Linked DNA regions of Homo sapiens: regions 1 and 3 are each linked to region 2. A link means that fine-mapping ties the variant in region 2 to the expression of a gene that starts in the linked region. Tissue or cell type: esophagus mucosa. Region 2 holds a variant in brackets; each other region holds the start of a gene. All regions are shown on one strand. Distances are between the middles of the regions.

What was found. PIP is the estimated chance that this variant, and not a neighbour inherited with it, causes the effect.
Region 1: it holds the start of ZNF608, and the variant in region 2 is fine-mapped to the expression of ZNF608 in esophagus mucosa (GTEx, PIP above 0.99).
Region 3: it holds the start of LINC01170, and the variant in region 2 is fine-mapped to the expression of LINC01170 in esophagus mucosa (GTEx, PIP above 0.99). The same link has a PIP of 0.9 or more in atrial appendage.

The regions. Positions count from the first base shown.
Region 1 is chr5:124,743,324-124,751,419 of GRCh38, reverse strand. It overlaps ZNF608 (zinc finger protein 608), which reads left to right and starts at 4,781. Exons shown (of 10, transcript NM_020747.3): 1 at 4,781-5,225; 2 at 6,248-7,336. The coding sequence starts at 6,431. RefSeq lists enhancers at 1-250, 2,543-3,541, 3,669-3,848, 3,542-4,540, 6,580-6,649 and 4 more and a silencer at 2,424-2,663.
Region 2 is chr5:124,399,014-124,407,122 of GRCh38, reverse strand. The region is part of intron 3 of LINC01170 (long intergenic non-protein coding RNA 1170); the gene reads left to right. LOC105379155 (a long non-coding RNA gene) reads right to left here and starts at 3,613. Exons shown (of 3, transcript XR_001742872.2): 1 at 3,543-3,613. RefSeq lists a cis regulatory region at 4,894 and an enhancer at 4,810-4,979. The variant C/T (reference allele first, on the strand shown) is at 4,894.
Region 3 is chr5:124,434,571-124,442,666 of GRCh38, reverse strand. It overlaps LINC01170 (long intergenic non-protein coding RNA 1170), which reads left to right and starts at 4,147. Exons shown (of 6, transcript NR_125774.1): 1 at 4,147-4,272; 2 at 4,791-4,970; 3 at 6,372-6,509. RefSeq lists an enhancer at 1-370.

The DNA of each region.
Region 1 (8,096 bases), 340 kb before region 2:
ACAGAAAACTTCCCAATTTTGTGAGAGGAGTAGCTCTGATTTTCAAAACTGGTAGTTAATTGTCTTAGTTTCAGTCATCAATTAGCTGATGGTCCTCTGATGCCTTTTGATTGGCCCCTTTGTCAAACAAAACAAAACAAAACAAACACAAGAAAAGCCAGTCTGACAACACTGGTTTATTCAAAAGTCTCCTGGAAGAACCTGGGAGGAAGGAGGTGGGGGTGGGGTGTAAATGGAGTGTGGAGATGTTGGAATGGAAGGAAATACTTTAATTTATCAAAATGGTTTGGGTTAAATATGTGGTAGAGTCGGGCCTAAGCCTTCATCTTGGGCCAGTAGGGTTTCTCAGAAAGGTTTAAGGTTTGGGTTTAAGTGTTGAAGCTCGGGTTAGATTAGATTATTTGATTATTACAAACCCTAAACTTTGGTTTTAGTTAGACTTCATCTGTGCTGCAGACGCTGTAATTTGTTTTGTATTGGAGGAACTCCAATCTTCTCCAGCTTCACTAGGTCTCATTTTTAAATGTCCCATTCTTTTAAGAACTACCTATATATTATTTCCAAACTAATATAACATATGGGGTAGGCATGGGCTTCCAAAGGCTGAGATGTAGATGACACCCCAGGGACACAGGAAGTGCCCAAGAGTGATCTGATCCTTTGAGAAATCACTCTTTTAGAAGAAGAAAAGTTAAAAAACAGTATGGTGCTGTATTCTTATCAATGGGGCATACACAAATGTAAAATCTGTATATTCAAAAATATAAAACAAATCTCAAAGCTAAAATGGAGGCTAGGTAGATATCAGATCCCTAATTTGCCCATTTTATTTGTTAAAGTACAGCTTTGATTTGAATACAAATTGACTTAGGGAGAGCTAAGGACTAGTACAGATTGCATTCCTCTGGTTTATATGTCCCAATAAAGGGTGGAAACTGCTGTTTATTACTATTTGCAGCCTCAAATCTAGTTCATTTATGGTAGTGAAACAGCTAATTGGCAATTTTTTTATGGACTAAATATATTGAAAGCTCAAACATGAGTCAATAGCCATTATTTAAAATATGTGACATAAATATTTTTATTGATCCACGAAGTCATCACTGAATATTTACATCAGAAGCTGTCTTCTGCTAGCACTCATTCACTTTACATGTCCATATGACTCAGTTAAGACACAACCTTAAATTACAATTGTCACGTGGAAATTACAATCCCAGTAGTACTGGATCTTTAAAACTTGGGATCATGATGCTTTCAGTTTACAGTAACCTTTGACTTTCAAATGTCCATATTGTAGCTTCTAAAAACAATGAAGGTAACAATAAAAAATTAAAAATTAAATGTACTCTAAAGGCTTAATATATGTAAATACATTAGCTTAAATATGTTAGCTGTTATAGTAAAATGTTAAACTTGTTATTTCATATTAACCTCTCTTATCCTATGAGCTGAGTCTCATTAACTTGGTTGCTGGCATTTGTCCTACAATAAATTCTAAAATATTTCTGTGTTTGTGGATTGTAGATGTAGCATTCAGAGGATTCATGATGCCCCCTTCCCCACCAGTGGGGTTAAAGATATGGGGGAAGAGGAATTCTGACCCTTCCACAGTTTAAATACGTGTACTGGGACTGTTTAACAGTTAATCTTCCTAGTACATTTAACTTTCATAAGTCGATTTTTTAAAAGATGAGGCTGGCCCGAGGTGTTACTATGTTTAGCTGGGGCCTTATTTTAATATTAAGTTTTTCTTTTTTGGAGTCACATAACACCAGGTGGAAAAGATTTGTTACTAATTCCAGGGAAGAACCATTCACATAGTGTTGGTTAAATGGTCGCCTGCGTTCACACTTCAGTGCCTGTAGACCAGAGCCCTGGAAACAAAAGGGTTACTTGTTTCCCCACCATCGCCTTTACCCGCAGATCGATTTTTCTTATTTAATCAGCGAGTAAAAAGAGAGACACAGGGAAGAAAAAAAAAAAAAACTGCAGGAAGGGCAAAGTGGTGGGGGGAGGGTTGAAAGCCAGAAGCTGCAATACAGAAAATCAGTCTTGGGAGTTGGGCTGCGAAGTCCTTGGAACAAGGAAGGGAAGCCGGCAAAATGCTCGCAGTCAGTTCCACACAGCCAGCCTCCCTTTTCTCTTCGCTACGCGCTAGCGGCTCGTTTGGCTTCTCTCTGCCACCGAGCGATCACATACATTATTTCCCCCAAGATAACACAATCAAACTTGTATTTACCGACATCCTCTCCTCGCAGCCTGTTTGAGATTTGTTTTAATAAATAAGTGTTTTATGTGAATGATGTAGTAATTGAAAGGGGCGCACCATTTTTTTGCCTTCTTACTGCGGGAGGTTCCTCAACCCCAATCTGGTTGGAAAATAAAACGCTTTGTCTCCACAACCACCCCCCACAGCACCCCCACCCGCTCTCAGTGTGTGTTTTATACGTGTGTATATCTCAACCCCCTACAGTAGCCAAGAGAAAGCAGCTAGCCAATGAGAGAGCCCAGTTTCATAAAAGCTGCTCTCTGATTGGCCCGATGCGAAAGGGCACTGGGAACAAAGAAAAGTCCCTTTCAGGTATAGAGGCTGAGAGCTTCTTTTGCTCCACTCCCCCTGTGTGTGTGTTGTGTTTCAGTCCTGATTTAGTGTTGCAGAACAAGCTTGTTGTGTGTGTGCACCAGGGGGATTTTTGTTTTGCTTTTTTTAAATTTTAATTTTTGCTTTTATAAAAAATACACAGGACGGTCTGTGACATTTGATGGTCCATCTTCTTTAATAATAAATTTGTTGAAGAGATTATAATTTCCAAAATAAAGCGGCTGCAACCAAACACATTCAATGCAGTTAGAAGGAAAAGGTCAACTCGATCCAATACAGACCGTAAGTACGGTTGCGTGGTGTGTCTCTATATAGCACTTAGCGGGGACTTCATGCAGGGGAATGTGCGAGTTTTATGCATAGAAATGAGGAACTAGTTACAGGGTTTGGCTTTTGCATTTAGAACAACAACCCAAGAAGGGTGAATTTTATTCAGTGGAGGGTGAAGCATTTGTAACTTCACACAAATTAAGCTTGACTGGGCACTCGGGGTAACTTAGAGGAAATTAGCTTTTGGGCTCTAACCCAAAGGAGAATAAAAGTGACACAGTTGCATATCCTGGTCTGCAGTGTCAATTCTCTAGCTCACCTTACTCCCTCCCTCTTCTGTCCTAGCTGGGCAGACCCCCCTCCCAAAGCGATCCAGGAAAATGGGGGCAAGGGCAGAACAAGCCGATTTCTGTCTCCTGTCAGATCCCAGTGCCCGATAATTTAATATTAAACAAGGGAATAGTCACTCATTACATGTAATGGTTATAATTACCATTCGCCATCTCCTTAAAAAAGCAAGCAACAAAAATACCATTAAGAGAAAAAATAAAAGCCCCACCCAACCCAAACAAACCCACAAATAGTAACAATGGTGTATTTATTACAGGACCAGGCTGGGGAGCAAGCAAAAGGTTTTTCTTTGTTTAATACATGAAGTGGGGGTCCCTAAAATCCAAGTAGCTCGGAGATACCCTTCTCCCTCCCCCAGGCGTCCCCGTCCCTGGCCCCTTGGGAAAGCCGACAAATTGGAGATAAGTTGAGGAAAGGTTTATAAAGTGTTTCTTTAAAACATCTGCTTTGCTCTTGTGCTCATTACATTTCGCTCCTTCCGAACTTCGGAGATCCTAGATCTCCGAGAAATGTTTCACATTCATAACTTGTAGCTTCGCCCACTGCGGGGGGGCGGGGGGAGGAGGTTGGGGGAGTGTGTGCAGGGGGAGGGGAGAGACTTTCAGCTTTTTTTTTTTTAAAGACCAGATCAGTATTTTCTTGATACGCTTGTCACCATTTTTGTTCTCACGACAACCAATTGAGCCCTTGATCCTCACGTGATGTGAAAGGCTTGCACTGTAACAAAATCGCTCCTTTTAGATGGTTGGTTGTTACTAACTCGCCCATCCCCCTCTCCCAGCCCCGACATTTCCAGCAAAGCGACTCTCCACTTCCAATCCATCAACAATTCATTACTGCTTTTAGCTTCCAAACGCCAGCTAATTAAAAATACTAAGCCAAGCTCCGGGGCCATCTGACTAAACACAGGAGGGGCTGGGCGAAGGGAGAGGAGAGAAAAAATAAATAAAAGGGAGACACACCGTTTGCTGCGAGTATAAGAGGGAAAAACTCCCGAAAAGGGTCGCCTTAAAAAAAAAAAAAAAGAAAACAAAAACCTTATTTTGACTCTAATTATCGAATTACCACATGACTGGCTGACCTGAGCGACAGAGGATTCCACTCCCCTCGGGAGCTATACTAGGAACTCAGTTCCTTTTTCTTAAAACAACATAAGACAGGAAAACATCACATCCTTTAGGTTTCGAAGACTGAGCCCATTTTAAACGCCGTTATTTTCCCCACCCCACCGCCCCAAGCCCCCCGCCCCCCGCCCCGAGCGAATGCTGTTATAACTGGTTTATCAGCTCACTGAATCATCTGCTGTCTCCTCCTCCACACCTTTCTTTTTCTCCTCTTGCCCAGTTTCTCATCCCACCCTTTCTTCTCCTCCTCCTCCCTCTACTCCCCCCCTCCTTTTCTCTTAAGTTAGTTCAAGAAATCAAATCTGTCAGGACGGGCGGAAAAATGCCACTTCCCGACTAACAGGCGGAATCCAGCCCAGATTTTCAGTCCTTTCTTCTTATTCTTTCTTCCCTTTCACTAATTTATCCCGATGTTAGCACATTCTGTCTCGTTACTAGCGGACGCCTGTAGGTTTGCTACATGGGATCATTACTGATCACGGTGACTCTGAAGTCTGGAACTGAAGGCGGAATGAGAAGTTGGGAAAACTTTTTTCTCTAAACTCTCTGTTTTTTAAAAAACTATTATTCTCGATGCTTGTTAAGAGGAAAAAAAAACCTTTGGTGCTTCTGTTGTGAATGTGAAACATTATTTTCCAGCTGTACAGTGACACATTTTTTTTAAGGAGAAAAGGACTGATTCGTTTGCCAAAAGGGGGGTGGGGAGGTGGAATAATGTTATCGAGTGATTATTCTGGCTGAGATGTGTTATTTGGTTTCTTCCTTCTTGATCATTTGGTGTTTAAGTAAAATGAGGCACAGGCTTGTTTGCCGAGTGGAGTGGGAAAGGCATTTTGATTTGCTGGCCTAATTAAAAAATGATAAAGGATTAAAAGGTAAGCAATGTCTGTGTGTGTGTATGTGTGTGTGTATGTATATTTATTTATTTTTTTCTTGACAATCAACTGTTAAAAAGGGGCTGATCCCTTTAAAAACCGTTTTAACTGCTCTTTGTCAAACACACTCATTTGCGGTCATTGAGGCCACCTTGGCGCAGATCACTTAAAGTGTATGTCTTAATCAGTTTTCTGTACAGTCAGTAGCACCGTATTTAAGAGAGTGAGCAATTCTCTGACCTAGGAATATGGTAGAATTGTTTAAATGTATTTTTTTCTCAAAAGGCAGGTATTTAACTTTTTATATAACACTGTCTTTTCTAGAGAGAAATGCTCTTAAAAGACATGCATATTTCAAAAAAGAAATTGTAGAAGCTGTTTGGGAAAAGAGGATAGGAGGGAGGTATGTGTGTGTGTTGGGGGCAGTTATTGGTTGTTTTTTCTGTTCCTTACTAGGAACAAAAAACAGATTGCCCAGACAATTTGTAAAAAGAAGTACTGAAACCTAAATTAGAAATAAGGAAAATTTAGCAACATTCTATTCTGAAAACTAGCCTCAGAACTTCCAGGGTCTGGTCTTCTAAATTGCAAGATCTAGGACATGTTTAGGGATGTTTAAAGCTGTGTTCTTCCTTCTTGTCTGAGTGTTCAGGCTGTGTTTCTGGGGTTGAGATATCACATGTGCCAGACTGAAATCCTAAACTTTAAAAAAGAACACAAAAACCTTTCTGGACTTGAATCAGATCCTTAAGATAATTTAATGCTTTTAAAAAGGTGATTATCCTTGTGTTGTTGATAAAGGGATTTTCTTTTTAGCTACCGTAAGATGCTTACTGTCATAGGTTTATTTTTCGGGTTTGGTTATTTTCCTTTAAACCTGATATTGGACTGTGAGGACAATACATGAGCCACCTTACTCTCCATCCTTCCCTGTCCCCTTTACTGATTCCCCAATACTAATCGTTTTTTATTCTGGTAACACCCAGACAAGAAATATTCGACTTTTCCCCCCCCCTTCACAGGAAAAGGTGGACCTGGACTGAGGGTGTAAAATCCCTGGACACATTCGTGGGGCAGGAAAAAGAAGAGGAAGATTAGAAGATTTTTTTTTTCTTTGAGAGAAAGCCCAGCGGAGATAAACGAATGTCCCCTCATCTCCAAAGAAAAGTTCATCGGATTTTTATTCTAGAGAGCTCATCTTCAGGATGTCAGTGAACATTTCTACTGCAGGAAAAGGTGTGGATCCAAATACAGTTGATACTTATGACAGTGGCGATGATTGGGAAATCGGGGTTGGAAATTTAATAATTGATTTGGACGCTGATTTGGAGAAGGACAGACAGAAATTTGAGATGAATAATTCCACCACCACCACTAGTAGCAGCAACTCCAAGGATTGTGGAGGTCCGGCCTCCAGTGGGGCTGGTGCTACCGCAGCCTTAGCTGATGGCCTAAAATTTGCTTCTGTTCAGGCCTCTGCTCCCCAGGGGAATTCACACAAAGAGACCAGCAAATCAAAAGTGAAAAGGAGTAAAACTTCTAAGGATGCTAATAAATCTCTGCCTTCTGCTGCCTTGTATGGGATTCCCGAGATCAGCAGCACTGGCAAGAGGCAGGAAGTCCAAGGGCGCCCTGGAGAGGCAACTGGCATGAATTCAGCGCTGGGTCAAAGTGTGAGCAGCGGCGGCAGCGGCAACCCAAACAGCAATAGTACCAGCACCAGCACCTCTGCCGCCACCGCGGGGGCAGGCTCCTGTGGGAAAAGCAAAGAGGAGAAGCCAGGTAAAAGCCAGAGCAGCCGAGGCGCCAAGCGGGATAAGGATGCGGGGAAATCCAGGAAGGACAAGCACGACCTGCTTCAGGGCCACCAGAATGGCAGTGGCAGCCAGGCCCCTTCCGGGGGGCACCTCTATGGCTTTGGGGCCAAGAGCAATGGAGGTGGCGCGAGCCCCTTCCACTGCGGGGGCACTGGGAGTGGCAGCGTCGCCGCTGCAGGGGAAGTTAGCAAAAGTGCCCCGGATTCAGGGCTCATGGGAAACTCTATGTTGGTAAAGAAGGAAGAGGAGGAGGAGGAGAGCCACAGGCGAATCAAGAAACTGAAAACTGAGAAGGTAGGATAAAGTCGCCTTCCTAGATGTCCTACTCTCCTCTGTGTGCATTTGTGTGGGTGTGTGGGGGTGTGCCTCTGTGTGCCTTACACTTTATGCTTTCTGGTTCTTTGTGAGATTTCTATGATATGCATCCTTTATATTAAAATTTGATATGGGGGAGCCTACTTGGGTGCAGTGTTTGGCTCTTGCTTCTGCTGTCCTTGCTGCTGCTGCTGCTGCTGCTGCTGCTTGTGATGCTAGTGTTTGGGTTCCCAGGTGGGAGGGCCTGAGTGTTCTAAGTACCTTTTGCCCTGTAGATCGGTTCCTCACTAGTCAGCAGGTTGCCGTGTGCTTTTAATAGAAAACCTGCTCATGCACCCTCTTGACTCTTGTCCTGCTTTCTTCCTTAAGGGGAACAGTTTTCTATTTTAATTTATTCATCCTAGTATTGCGGGTAATGTGTCCTTAGGTGCAAGGTTCAAGTTCCCTCCCTGGAGAGGAATGTCGAGGATTCGAATTTACATTCTACAGACCTCATCCCTTTTATTTTTTCTTACTGTCTCCAAAATAGTACTGTGAAAGGATATCCTTGAATGAGTTCTTGTTATTGGTCCTGAATGAAACCCCAAGCTTGATGTGTTGGGTCATTGGTTTCATAACTGCAGAAAAACTCGATGGTTTTGGTGGCTGTTAGCACTCTACCCCTGTTCCCTCACCCAGTTCTTAGCTAGAGATTTAAGAGTGTTATCACTTGGATACCTGACTGGGGAGCTGGACGGCT
Region 2 (8,109 bases):
AATGAGCATTTTGGTGACTATTGCAAAGAAAAAGGTGCTTATTTCTAAGGCAGAAAGAAAATATATTTTCATAGTTAATATATACATTAAAATTGTATGTACTTGCATATTAGATATACACAGTGTTAAAGCTATGGCTAATATATCATTTTGGAGAAAAATCTGAGTAAAAATTAACTCTTGTAAAGAGTTACTGGTGTCAGATGGCAGAGTCCCAAATGAGTGGATTCGTTTATCCCCACAATGTATCAGGTGATCACCTCTCATAAAAACTACTATTAACCTAAAAAATTAGGGTCAGTAAAAGCTTAGCTCTAATTCACAAATCTCAACAAGCTGAACTGTTAGACCCAGTGAGCTCATTAGGATAGATTAAAGACCAAACATAATGACATTACGAAATATGTGATTTTAATATGTTTGATCCTATCAGAGCAATCCTTTTAATAACATGATTTTATTGTGGAACCTTGTATGTTTTCCTTAAAAACCAAAAAGACAATCTAAAAATTTAACCCATTGTTGTTTCTTAGCTTGTAACCCCGTGATACTTGATTTAATTTGGTAAAGCTGACTGAAGTGATGCTATTCTGGGACATAATGACAGCAAAGATGACATGAGCCAATGCTGCAGCTGAATTTCAATTTTCAGTAAAAAATCCTCACCCCACCTGCCACTGGAATAGAAATAATATCAAGGGCTAACTTCTAATCTTGCACCCCTGTCATACATCATACTCTGGATTCCAACAGTCTACACCTATTTTCTTTTATAATGGTCCTAACCCCAAACAAGCAACCTAGGGTTTGTAGCAACAAAATCAGATCCTTACAGTGAACAGGACTTTGCAAAGCACCTTCTTCAGAATTAGTAATATTACTTACTTAATATGGGAAAAAACATACAAATCTTACCATCAATGGGCCAACTCATAACCAACAATTTATAGCATACAAGAACCTTCATGGTATCTTATTCAACCTTTAACATAATTCTATTTGTTATCATTAATTCTAAATCACAAATGAGGAAACAGAGTCAGAAACAGCTGATTTTTCACTGTGCTTGGGTTAGGTCCAACTCTGGAATTATCATATGCAAATAATGACAGAGAGAGGCTCTCATATAGTTGTAGAATTGTAACAAGACAACAAGCAATTCACATAAGTCATGGTTTCTCAGACAATAATCTTGTTTAGTAATTATTAGTCTTTATCTGAAACACATGGTTTGATGGTAAATTTTTTGAATAGGCGATAATAAAAAATAATTCTCAAAAAGAACCCTCAAAGTCAACTGTGTGTATTTCCTTCTTTCCTGGTGGGGAAAGTTTATAAGGGTTGGGGCAAGTCCCTTCAGACCCAGGAATTTGATAAACACCATCAGGGTTGTTGAGACCAACCTCACTGTGAGAGAGAAACAGAATGAATGAGATGTTGATATAGGAAAGGAAGTAGCTGAATTAAGAGTGTTTTCTTCTTTACTAACAGCCAGTCCACACGTTGAAAAGCATTCAGTTACAATTTTTATCTATAAAGAGTGGAACATTCGCCCAATGTCCCAGTACAATAGGACCATGAGAGTGAAGTTCCCTAAAGAACTCAACCATTTCCATGGATAGATGGCAGAGGAACACAGCTTTGCTGTCAGAATGATTTGTGACCAGGCCTAGATGGGGACTGGGGGCATCCTGGCAGGTTGATAATTTTATTTTAAAACCATATTCTTTCAATATTTGTACATTTATATCGAAGAGAGTCTGAGCTCTGTGTGGGAGCAATGTGCAGTGGGAACTTCTGGGTCCCTCGGTGTCCCCTTTCATGTCTTAGGCTATTTGGCTCTACCAGGTGTGGATATTCCACTCAGCACGGCTGTGCCCACAGAGGCTGTGCCTCTGGCTTGCTCTTCTTGGAAGTCAGATGCAAATATCGCCTTCTCGGGTCTTAGCCCCATCTTAGTATCCCATCCTTTTCCCTAAGAAGAAACGTGGCATATACAAGTTCCTCCATCTTGTGACATTTCCACGATTCTCTTAGCCCCTCTTACAGAACAGTTTCCCAAGCAGCAGCCTGCCTGATCCACCCTTAATTCAGCTGTGCGTCTGACAACATGTTCTACAGGAAAGATAACCTTGTACATCAGGTGTTTCCTGTTTCCAGTACCAAAAGGTCAGTACTTGATTACACATGTATTTACAAGGGTAGAGAAGGGAAATGATCAAAAGTTTTTACAACCATAGTCCTTCAATTAAGAAAGAAGTGGTCTTTAATTTTCTCCATTCTTTTTAAAAATTCTCTTTCTACCTTTGTTTAAATATCTCTCCTAACTAGGAAAGACCTGTTGTACATCATACAAGGCATACCAACCCACATACTAGAACACATAAGTAGGAGGAATAGTGTTCTAGAAGAGAATTACTATTTGGAGAAAAAAAGGCATAATTTCCTTTTACAGTCATGCATTGCTTAATGCCAGAGATACGTCCTGAGAAATGTGTGATTAGGCAGTATCATCATTGTGTGAACATAATAGAATGTATTTACACAAACCTAGGTGGTATAACCCACTATTCACCTAAGCAATATGGTACTGCTCCTAGGCTACAAACCTGTATAGCATGTTACTATACTGGATACTGTAAACAATTGTAACCCAATGGTAAGTATTTACATATCTAAACATATCTGAGCATTAAAAAGGTACAGTAAAAATACAGTATTCTAGTCTTACAGGATTACCACTATATATGCCCTTTGTCATTGATGGAACCATCATTATGCTGTGCTTGCCTATATTTCAAAATTCACTATAAAAAGATAGGTGAACCTCAGATCCATCTCCTAGATGTATGATTTCTAGCTGCATATTAACCTCAGTCACATTTTAATATTATTCACACAAAAATTAAAACACTCAGGTATTTGTGATGAAGTAATTTTGCCTAAATTTATTTTATTTCCAAAGAACCTGCATCAATTTGATTCAGTAACATTTAAAATCATTCAACAAAAATCTTTCAAACTTTTATGTTACAGTAATATTCAAACTCTTTTTTTGTGGCTCAAATCTTTTTATGAACTTCAATTATGTGAAAATATCCAATTTTATTTTTAAATAAAGATGTTTAGAAATGTATTGATATTTGTCAAATCTAAGTTGCAGCTATGTAAGTTTTTATTAAGTCATTCTCTGTGTATACTTCTAAGTATGTTGGACTTCTTACATAAAAAATTAAACGTTATTGAGGAAAGAAAAGGGAGAATAAGTTTCAAAAAGAAATTTATCTTTCTTTAGATATATATAATCATCACAAAATATTATCAGATAACAAATCTTGAATTTTACTTTAAATGAAAACATTTTTCAGATCTGTCTTACTAATTTTATGTAATTCCTTTTCACATGTTTCGTGAGGCTGATAAAATGCTTCGTAAGCAGGTATTCATGTGGCTCTATAACAAGTTATTTTTAGGAAGCTTATATACAAAAATACTTGCCACACTTTCTCTCACTCTCTGGACAGTCAGACAAGAAGGCTCACTTTCTCCAGGAATCTCCTAGTGCCAGGTTCTGGGCTGTGGACACCATGCTGGCCAGAGGAAGCTGCTGCACAGGTACAGAGGTGCAGAGGGTGGGGCTGCACTGAGAGGGCGGGGCGGGATCAGAAGTAATTTGACCAGTTAGGAAGCTACTGCAATAGCAATATTGATTATTTACTATGTGTCAGATGCTGTGCCATTGTGCTAGGTGCTGGGCATAGGAGTGAAAAAGACACCAAAGTCCTCAGTTCCAGGGAATTAATTTTTCTAGTAAACAAACAAACCAAAAAACAAGGAAAGTCATCATTACTATGGAGAAAACAACACTGGATCTTGTCATAGCGACTGAGGCCTCCACAGAAGGTGGGCTGTGTGTGTGTGTGTGTGTGTGTGTGTGTGTGTGTGTGTGTGTGTGTGTATGTGTATTATTTGGATAAACAAATTAGGGCCCATCTTTGGAGTTGGGGATGGGGTCAATCCCACCAGAATAGTGAAGGGATGTTTTCCATTTTCTTTCAGTTTTATCCATTCTCTTTGTTTGTTTTTCCAAAGAAAAGTCCAGGCGCTGATCCAGGATGCAAAAATTCATCCCCTTTAAAAGCTAGTGCCAGTTGTGGAGTGAGGATAGAAAAAGGGGAAGGAGAGGGAGCTTTGTGAATTCTCACACTGTGGTAATTTTTATTCCTGTTACAAATTAATTTTAAAAATCTATTATATACATTTTCAAGTTACCAAAGTGAAATCATCACAGCTCAAGTGCCTATGGTAGCAAACATGGATATTGCATAAATATATGGTCCCTAATAAATAAAAATTAAAATATTTGTATCTAACTGGAGTGTTTTTTAAAGTTAAAAATTAAAAATGAAATTAAATGAGAGAATGGGGCCATCATTAACAATTTAAAAAATGCTTAGTCTTTGGAAAGTGATTTAAAGTAGTAATAATTTTTTACCTTTTAGGCCTTTAATGACTATCAGTCCGCTCATCCAGCAGGAATGCCCATGTTTAGATTTAGTATTATTAGAGTTAGGTGTGTGCATGGCACAGTCCCAGAGTTCCATGGGAACATTCCCACCAGGGAGTGAGAGTTTATGCAGAGCAGCATCTATACTTCAGGTCATTACTGCAATTAGGCTTATTCTCGTCAGCTCCTACTTGGAAAGGATTAATGTTTTGATGTTTATAGACTGTTACCATGATTTTATTGTGGGCTCTGAGCCACCAGTTATTGAATCAGGGTTTCGCAAGAAAATATTCCTGTTTCACTGATCTCAAGAAACAAGGCAGAGGAAGCAGTGCTTCTGGCCATAGAGTCCCTGTGGCATGGGGCTGGGTTCTTACTGGCAATGC[C/T]GAGTCATCTGGTCAGAACACTTTACAACCACACAAAGAGGGCAAATAAGTGCAGAGCCAGCTCCTCTGAGCCCACAAAAGGTCCTGTTGAAATCTATTAATCTCCTCCGCTGAAGGGCAAGTGGAGACGATGACAATACTGAGGTGTGGAATAGAAGAAATGTGATAAGCGGCTCTATTTTGTTTCCACCTCTAGTGGCTTAGGAACACAGAGTGTTCGAGGTTCAAAGAACTGAGAAACCTCAACAGCCTTAGAGGTTGATTGTGAATATGTGGGTTTCTCTTTAGTAACCTTAGAAGGGCCACATTGTTTAATTGAAAAACTCAATAGCCCTTGTAAGTTTTCAAAAGCAAAATTCTCTTTACGCCTATGATCTTACTAACAATCAGATAAAAGCTCTTTCTCATCACAGTCCACCTATAATTTTTAAAAGGAAATTACCTAATCTGGGATTATAAATAAAACCTAAATAAACACACCTAAACAGCTCACTGAGATATAAATACCTGTCTATGTTCACTCAGGTGTAGGTAATTAGAAAAGAAATAAATGTACCTGGGGCCCAGCCCTGAGGCAATGAGGAAATCAGGGGAGTTTTGTTTTGGGCCTCTTTCAGGTTTCACTGTGGGTGCTTTTCCTTTCCTTCTTGACAATCCTTCCTCTGTCCTTGCACCCTGCCTCCCAGAGAAACTCGCACATATCTCATTCAAACTTTTAGCCTCTGTTTGTTTCTAGTTCTCAGCTCCCTGCTCCCAACCCTGCTCAGTCATTAACTAACAATTCACCTCTGAACTTACCCGTAATGGTACCCAGAGGGTCTCTGAGGCATGAAGTTCAGGAATCAGATGGGGAAGGAGGACAGAGTAGGGTGGGGAGGGCAGTGGCGGGTTTGGAACTTCAGGGTGAGACATTGCGTCTGCTGCCTTCTCAGATCCACCTGCAACTCACCAACCCAGCACTGGCCTATGGCCTTTCCACTCCTATTGCTTTTGCTGGCTGAGATCACTGGATTTTCCTTTGTATCTTTTCTTATTTATCTCATACCTTCCAAAATCTTCAGTAAACTGGAAAAAGTTCAAAACAAGCAATTTAGAATTTAAATAACTAAAAATAATAGTTTAAAAATAGGTTGGTGCTACCCCAAGTATAGTTCCCAGACCAGCAGCCTCGACACCAACTGGGGGCTGGTTAGGAATGCTGACTCTGGGGCCCAGCCCACACCCATGGGATCAGAATATAACGAGATTCCCAGGTAATATTCATATGCATACTAAAGTATGAGAAGTTCTTCTCCCACCCCTGACAATTACCCATTAAGGATTTGAATGATGGACTTGCTTGATAAAGGAAATGCCATGGTGACATGGCACCACTCACCATGTGAGTGCTTTTCACTCACACTTGCCCTTGAAAGAATGATTTGGGAAAAAAATATTAACATCAGATGTTCATACTGAAGAACATTCTTTGTCTACTTGGGTATTTTTAGCCTGTGGGGCAGGAGTATGCCATTACTTGAGTGTTATGCTACCCAATTTGGAGGAAAAAAGATGTGGTAGGCAGATAAAATAGATTCGTTTCAAATCAGGAGGATTTTTCAAAGTTTAGAGGAGAGAATTCTGGGGTATAAACAAAGGGAATGAAAAAAAGGGAAGAAGAATTGCTCAGAAATCCAGCTATGGACTACGTATCCTCTTCATAGCGTTAGAGATGTCCAGGTTTCTAACATGAGTTATTTGGAAAGTACACTTTGATTTTAGGACCATGTTTTTTGATGGCAGCACCTAGCCTGGGTCTGGCTACATTGTCATATCTTTGGCAGGGTTATGAAGGATTGTACTTCAGAACACCAACATCAGATTCAAGACAGTGTCACTCGTTAAACTCTGTCAAGGGCTGGGTATGGTGGCTCATGCCTGTAATTCCAGAGCTTTGGGAGGCCGAGGCAGGAGGATCACTTGAAGATAGGAGTTTCAGACCAACACTGGCAACACAGTGAGACTCTTTCTCTATTACAAAGAAAAAAGAAAAAAAAATCTGTGAAGTATTCCACTAGGGAACATTATGTTTTAGGTCACATTTATCTGCAGACAATGAACTAGACAGTGATAAAAATGGTAGAGTCTAGAACCATGTTTTCAATGACCATATCACCTTTGCTTTCATATTTACTTGAGCTTAAAGAAGGCTGCTTTGGGCTTTAATCACTTTTGGGTTGCATTACATTATCCTAGCATCTCTGGGACAAAAACTTGTTATATATAAGATATATAACAGTGAATATGTATAAAGTGTAGAAATAAACTCGCCCCTCTTCATAACTAAGTGTACTTTAGCATTTTGGAAAAAATAATGTACAACATGCAAATAAAAAATAATTAAAACATGCCTTTGGACAAGCATGCCTATAAAAACTAAGCAAAACCACAATAGTTGAATAGGTATCTGGAACATTGTTCTTTGGCAGGGAAATGGCAGAATCCCAAAATTCCTTCTTTTCTCTTAAAAAAAATTAATCTGCTCCTTTGGCAGATTGTGTTTTTTAAAGATGATCACAGAAACATTTCCTATCTCACAAACCTTTTCTATAAATATGACTTTGACATCCTTTCTCACAAAAGCTGGGATCTATGTTGCTTCCCCTTGGCATCGGGCAGGCTTTGATGACTGTTTGAAACAACGGACTATGGTGGAAATGTCCTCTGTAAATTCTGAAGCTAAATCACAAAAGGCAATTTCCATTCTGCCTTGCTTGCTGGAATGCTTACCCTTTAAGCTTTAGGCTGCTAATTAAGAAGTCATTCTCTGAAGAAGTCCAAACTAGCTCAGATAGAGAAAATGGAGAGACCCTGAGACTACACACAGAGAGAGAGAGAGAGAGATGAAGGGATGCTGGGCCAGGCCCTAGGTAGTCCAGCCCCCAGCTGTTCCAAATCCACCACAGGTAGACTTTGAGTTACAACCGTCCAATCTAATTCCTCACCCACAGAAACCAGGGAAGAAGATAAAATAATTGCACTTTTTTGAAGCCACTAAGTAACTGGCTGCGCTTATGTTACTGGTTCCTGTTTAACACCATTTTATGTCTTCACGCCAGTTTTCTGTGGTGATATCTAAATCTAAGAAAGAATTAATGTTGTTGCAGTGGGGGCGACATTGTTCAAATGGTAAGGAAAATCTTTAAAGAAAGGCAAGACTTAGAAAAACAAAGCATG
Region 3 (8,096 bases), 36 kb before region 2:
ACAGACAATAGATAGATTAGCATGAGAAAAGGCATACAAATTTGTTAACGTGCAAGGGCACAGGAGTCACACAAAGTATGAAGGGCAAGATGACTGAAGCTTGAATGCCCTCTTCATGAGGGACAGGGAAACAGGAGATTGATATGGTTTGGCTGTGTTCCCACCCAAATCTCATCTTGAATTGTAGCTCCCATAATTCCCATGTGTTGTGGGAGGGAACCAGTGGGAGATAATTGGATGATGCGGGCAGTTTCCCCCCTACTGTTCTCTTGGTAGTGGATAAGTCTCATGAGATCTGATGGTTTTATAAGGCGGTTCTCCTTTCTCTTGGCTCTCGTTCTCTTTCATCTTCATGTAAGATGTGCCTTTCACCTTTCACCATGATTGTGAGGCTTCCCCTAGCTACATGGAACTGTGATTCCATTAAACCTCTTTTTCTTTATAAATTACCCAATCTTGGGTATGTCTTTATCGGCAGCATGAAAACAGACTAACACAGAGATGTAGGCAATTTTAGAGAAAGAGTAAAGGATTTTTAGGTGGATGAATGGACCTGAAGAAAAGACAATAATCTGGGACAAAGTTCCTCTGGGCTCTGGGTGTGATGTCAATTCTAGTCTTCTTTCCTTCTAGTTAATCTTCCCGGTTTGATGAGATTATAGGGAGGAGGTCCAAGACAACTGCATTCCTTCTGGAGGAACATTGTTAGTCAGATAGGAGAATTTCAAAGGAAACCCTTCCCTGTGCTTCTGGAGGAGCAGAGGGGCAATAGACAGGAAGGCAGGAGGTCACCTTGGTGCTGAGGTTGCTTCTTTAGTTGAAAGTACTCAGCATGTCCAAGTGCCAGGCTTTGAGGTATCATTTTTCTAAGCCCCAGCACTAGTTATTTCACACATTGCCAACATGCCCAAAACATTTTGTTTTCCAAGCAATTTATTAAGACAATGACACTCCTCCTCATATTCCAGGGAATTATATTAATTATTAATGTGCACTGTATTATGTTACCATTTAGTGTAAGACACATCCTGGGTTTACTCTATGACTAGTCAGTTTGGAAGACCACCCAGCCTGGAACCCCGGGTGGTCTTGGGAAGAGCTTGGGTATTGGAAGTCAGCTCTGTATTTGGGTCCTGGCTCTCCTGCCTACCATCAGTGTGATGCCACACCATTTACTTGACTTTTTGGAACTCAATTTTCCTCTCCCTTAATAGGATTAGAAATGTATAGCATGCAGGTGAAGGACCTGGGATAATTAATTATACCAATTATATATTGGTAATATTAGTACAGCATAGAGTAGTGGTTCTAAAGTATGGTCCCCAGACCAGCAGGATCAACATCATGTATTACAAAGCAAGTTCTTGGGCTTGAACCCAGACCTACTGAATCCAAAACACTAGGGAGAGAGCTCAGCCATCTATGTTTTAGCTAAAGTTGGAAACTATTAGCAGAATGGTTAAGAGTGGAGAGCTCATTTAGAAAATTGGCTAATGCATACATTTACCTCATACAGGAGTTGTAAAGCACTCAGTGTTTGGCACTGAGTAGGCACTAGATAAATGTCAGTATTATTTACATCTGAGAAACAGAGTTTGTGTGCTGAAAACAGTATTTGAGTCAAATGTTCCTCTTAGGTAGGCAAAATATAATCGCTGCTAGGCACATGAATTTTGGACTGAGACAATGTGCGTTCAAATCTCATTTCTGCCAACATAGAAGCGATTGGTTTTGGGAAAGTGTCAAGGTCTCAATGTTCTTATCTGTAAAATGGAAATAGTAATAGTATCAACTTCAAGTAATTATAATGGCACTATAACATGAGTAGTAAGGTGTTGACAAAGATTTTCTCCTTGACCAATCTCTAGTCAGGTTATACTGATGCCTTTGCTAGACCGGACCTGACCGTAGGCTTCTGTCTCTAGCCTTGTAGAATCCGGTTTTAGCAAGAATCTTGAAAAGTTAGTTTAGAGAGAACCTCTCCCCTTGGTAATGGATGACACACACTATCTGATCAAATTCCTCATTGTCCACCATCTGCCAGCTGACGTCTGACCACTTTGGCCTGCTATCAGCAAGAATCTTGTTAGGTCAGATTAGCCAGAATCATTTTAGGCAGAATCCCCTCTTCCCATGATATTTCTTCTTAGCAATTTTCCATTCAGTGTCCCACCTCACTATAAATCTTCACTTTTCCTTATATTCAATGTTGAGCCCAATCTCTCTCCCCTACTACAAAACTGTATTGCAGCAGTATCTACTTTTATCACAATAGCCCTGAATAAAGTCTACCTAGCCATTTTAACAAATGTCAGAAAAATTGTTTCTTTACCAGCATGTTGGATGAAAATGTTAGTTGTTAAGAATTACTCTTCAAACAGAAGTAGTCTAATTGAATGACAAATGCTCACCCAATGATTTTATGTCTTAAGATTGTCATGGAGAATTATCTTATTATAAATTCCTGCTTACTCTTGAAGCTTCAATATAATTTCACCACTTTTTTTTAAGCTTCAGGATCAAAAAATATCCCACGATTTTCAATGAAATTAATCTGTGTGCTTAATTTGATGCTCCATTTAAAAAACAATACAGTGTCTCTGATAGTACCTCAGAAATAAATACCGTATGGCCTGGCATGGTGGTGTGTGCCTGTAGTTCCAGTTACTTGGGAGCTCCCGAGGCCAGGAGTTTGAGGCCAGCCTGGGCAGCATAGTGAAATCACATCTCAAGAAATTTTTTAAAGTTGTAAAAAAAAGAAATAAGTACTATAACTAGCAGCTGCCATCCTATATGAGAGGGTTACTCTATGTGTACATCTCCAGATGAAGGGTGACTCAGAGTAACACCACATTTAGTGCGATGCCATACCCAGTTTCACACTCTCAGATGAGGCTTTGTTATTCTTGAAGACTGAGGTCCCGTAGGTAGCCTGGAAAACAGTTCACAAAAGGCTCTCTGAATAGTGAATGCACATGCTTAACAAATCTGTTTTTGCTAGTCTCCATTACCTTCCTTCAGCAGGTGTAAAGCTTTAGTTCTGATATTCCTCTCCATTGTAGATGCCTGGCTCTAAGCCTTCTTTGTTTCTACCCAGATGCCAGCTTCTAGTTAACTATTCTTTTTTTTTTTTTTTTAAGCTACCAACCATCTGGAGGAAATCTGATTGGGGCTAGGGTCATTTTTGTACCTTTTAAAATGCGGTGTAGGTAAAAGGATTTGTCAAACCCATGAATGACCCTTCTCAGATCTCAGAGGCACTTCAGATTGGCAAGGGACTCCTTCATGAAGAAGCTGACTCAAGCAGAGGTAGCAACAGAGGCAAAGAGGAGCATGCTGAAGCTACAAGATGGGTTGAGAAATATAGATCTGCCCAATTATAATTCAAACAAAAACAAGTGAGAAACTGTAGTCGGTTGAGGCACTCTTGGCCGAGCATCTGGGCTTGGCATGCATGCATGCATAATTAGGCTTCAGGCAGCTGCAGGCTTCCACAGTGCAACAGGGCAGGCAGGATATCATAATACACAGTAGGTTGCATATCAATGAAACTCTTTTTAAATTCACATGAAGCCTAAGATAAAAAGACATCAGCAAAAATTAAACAGCATTCAAAACGGCAGTGAATTGTGATACAGGCCACCAGGAAAACGATGAAACCCGACCTGGTTTCCCCCCATTGTTCTGTTTCCTTCACACAAATAGATTAGAGCAACAGTGCTGACTTTGTTTTAAAATACACACACTCATTAGATCAAAGTGATCAATGCACATTTAAGCAACTTTCAAGGCATCACAGGAAGAGTGAAATGGTCTGCTTTATTTTGAAAGACAACAGAGAAAATCACACACATGCATCGGGGCATTGTGATATGCAGATGGTTGGCTTTCAGAAGAATTAAATATTCATGGAAGATAAAAATCTCTCTCATTATATTTTTAATGTATATGAGGCTTTGGGCTCAATGCCCTCTGTGTTCACATAACAGACAGACCCTGTTCTCCAAACACATGGATCTGCACACAAGGACGGCTCAGATCACATCCCGAGATGTCACCCTGGCCCGGGCCGGTCAGGCCCTTCCACCGCAGGGCTGCCCCATGGCAGCCAGTGACACCGCTGAGACAACTTTGCCGTGGCCTTACTTTCATTTCCTTGGTTGTTCAGTTTATGGCAAAAGACCCTCAGCTGTGTTTTGTTTACTAATTCCCCTAAGCCTGCCTTAAATCCAGACTGCCAGGGCCACAGGAAATCTTTCAGACCCCTGACAGGTACGGGTAAGTCTCTGAGGTACCTGGGCGTTTGCATTTGCTTCTATTACTAACCCACGTGCAGCATTATAACCTTCCTGCTTTTTCTTGTTTATTCCATGTCTTTGTTTGACAGAGATTCAAAGGGGTTTCTCAGAGGCTTTTAATCTGATTAACTACACATGGGTGACCACTGTAAGGGTTGGGATGCTACAGGACAGGCAGCACTGTCGGGTAGGGTCAGATTTGTCATCCCTCCTGCCCTCGCTTTCCCCAACACACTCCCAGTTTTCCCCTCCCCCACCCCGTGTGCCAGCTCACTCAGAAAATAGGATTCCAGATATGCTTTTATTGAGGAAGAATAATTAAAAAAAAAGATGTGTTTCTTCTTCATAGGGTGCTGAAATAATGAATTTATTAACCTTAGATCAGTGAAATGAATGAAAACTAAACCTGCTTAAAGGAAAGCATTAAGGTGAGAAAAATAAATATTCCTCTACATTTCAATTTGATTCTGAATTTAGTTCATTTTACTCCAGTTAGAAAATTGGCTCCACCTATGGCATTCACTGGAGTAGTCATCATCTTCTACACCGTGTCATTTTCCGTGCTTCTTTGTACATACATTCTTTCCTATGCTTTAAGACTGTATCGTCTATAGAAGATGAGTAATTATGATGAAGACTGAATCGTCACAGCATTTTGTTGTTGGCGTTCAGGTAATTGTAGCTGCGCGTGAGGTAGTTATTTGACCAGGTCTAATGTGTTGAATTGGTCTCTTGCTTTTTTTTTTTTGGTCACTGCTGTTGCCCTCCAATAAATTCCATCTTATCTTCAACTTAGATTTAAATACATGTGTTTTCTAGGTGTTGTTTCTATGCTCATATTTTAAACACAAGCATAAATGTACTTACATTACTGGATTCCAAAATGTAAATAGGTAGGACACTCAGGAATCAGATCTAACTTCCTTTTATCCCCCTGTCTGTGAACTGTGCTTTCAGTAAAAAGTAATGTTTCCATGTTGGGAATTCCCATTATTTCTTTTAAATATCCTCTAAAGCCCTGGTTTAAATAGGAATCAAAGTTCTTATTCCAGTGAGTGGAACAATGCAGTAATATAGATGTAGGGATCAAAGACATCACTGAACCATCAGCCTCCTGCCTCCAGTGTAGCCAGCCATCCTCAGCCATCCCCAGAAGCTGCATCCTCAGGGGCAGCACCCGGGGCTGAACAGTGAGCTGGCCAGGCTGGAGGGAATCTCCTCAGGGGAAATGTGTGAATAGACCCTGATTTGGAGGCAATATCCTCCCCCGCACCCTTTATTGAGGTATGATTAACACATAAAAATTGTATATATTTTTTACAACATGATATTTTGATATATACTGTGAAATTATTACCACAATCAAGCTAACATCCATCACCTCACGTGGTTACCTCTGTTTCCCTGGTGAGAACACTTAAGATCTACTCTCTTAGCAAATTTCAAGTACACAATACATTATTACTAATTATGGTCACCAAGCTGGACATTAAACCTGAACTTATTTATTTGAGAACTTAAAGTTTGGCTGAGTGTGGTGGCTCATGCCTGTAATCCCGGCACTTTGGGAGGCTGAGGTGGGAGGGTCACTTGAGACCAGGAGTTTGAGACCAGCGTGGGTAACAATGACATCCCATCCTTACAAAAATTAAAAAAACTATCCAGGTATGGTGGTGTGCACCAGTAGTCTCAGCTACTCAGGAGGCTGAGGTAGGAAGATCTCTTGACCCCAGGAGTTCAAGGCTGAAGTGAACTATGATTACCCCACTGCACTCCAGCCTGGGTGACACAGCAAGACCTTGGCTCTTTAAAAAAAAAAAAAAAGAAAGTTTGTACCCTTTGAATAATATTTCCCCTTTTTTTTCCATGACTCAGCCCCTGGTCATCACCATTTTACTCTCTGTTTCTATGTATTTGACTTTTTTTTAAAGATTCCACATGTACATGAGACTATGCAGTATTTATGTTTATTTATCTGGCTTATTTCATTTAGCGTAATGTCCTCTAACTTCATCCATGTTATTGCAAATGGCAAGATTTCGATTTCTTTCTCCTTTTTTTTTTTTAAGATAGGATCTCACATTGTCACTCAGGTTGGAGGGCAGTGGTGGGATCACAGGTCACTGCATCCTTGACCTCCTGGGCTGAAGTAGTCCTCCCGCCTCAGCCTCCGTGGTAGCTGGGACTACAGGCACATGCCACTGCACGCAGGTAATTTTCTTGCTTTTTTTTTTTTTTTTGTAGAGACAGGGTTTTGCTATGTTGTCCAGGCTGGTCTTGAGTTCTCAGGCTCAAGGGATCTGACTACCTTGGCCTCCCAAAGTGCTGGAATTATAGTCATGAGCCACCATGTCCGGCCAGATAGCCTTCATTTTTAAGGCTCAATAATAATATTCAATTGTGTGTATTCGTCCATTCTCACACTGATATAAAGAATACTACCTGAGACTAGGAATTATAAAGGAAAGAGGTTTAATTGACTCACAGTTCCACTGGCTTAATGGGAAGCATGACTAGGAGGCCTCAGAAAACTTATAATCATGGCAGAAATTGAAGGGGAAACAGGCAACTTCTTCACAAGGCTGCAGGAGGGAGTGTGTGCAAGTGTGAAGGAGGAACTGTCAAACACTTATAAAACCATCAGCTCTCATGAGAACTCACTCACTATCATGAGAACGGCATGGGGAAAACCACCCCCACGATCCAGTCACCTTCCACCAGGTCCCTCCTTTGAGGTGGAGATTACGGGGATTACAATTCGAGATGAGATTTGGGTGGGGACACACAGTCAAACCTTATCAGTGTGTTGTAGGACACTTAGATTATTTCCTTATTTTGGTTATTATGAATATTGCTGCAAGGGGGAATGTGGGAGTAGAGCTATCTTTTTGAGATAGTGATTTTATTTCCTTTGGATATATACCCAGAAGAGGGATTGCTAGATCGTATGGTAGTTCTATTTTTAATTTTTTGAGGAAACTCCATACTATTTTCATAGGGCTGTACCAATTTATAGTCTCACCAACAGTAGATAAGTGTTCCCTTTTCTTCACATCTTTCCCAACCCTCATTATCTTTGACTTTTTGATAATAGCCAACCTAACAGGTGTGAGGCAATATCTCACTGTGGTTTTGATTTGCATTTCCTTGATGATTAGTGATGTTGGGCATCTCTTCATGTACCTGTTGGTCATTTGTATATCTTCTTTGGAAAATTTTCTATGCAGCCCTTTTACCCATTTTTCACTTGGGTTATTTTGTTGGTTTGTTTGTTCATTTGTATGGTATTGAGTTGTAAGAGTTTCTTATATATTTTTGATATTAACCTTTCATTGGACATACAGTGTTCACATATTTTCTCACATTCCATAGGATGCCTTTTCATTTTGTTGATTGTTCCTTTTGCTGCGCAGAAATTTTTAATTTGATATAGTTATACGTGTTTGTTTTTGCTTTTGTTGCCTGTGCTTTGAGTGATAAGTAAAAAAAAATTGCCAAGAAAAATTTCAAGGAACAAAAGTTTTCTTCTATTTTTATAGTTTTCTATATGTTTTCTTCTAGTTTTGTAGTTTCAGATCTTGTGTATAGGTCTTCAATTCATTTTGAGTTAACCTCTGTGTATGGTATAAAGTAAGATTCCAATTTTATTCTTTTGCATATGCATATCCAGTTTTCCCAATGCCATTTATTGAAGAGATCATCCTTTCCCTATTGTATATTCTTGATGCCTTTATCAAAAATTAGTTGACTGTAGTATACATGTGGGCTTTTTTCTGGGCTCTCTATTCTGTTCCATTG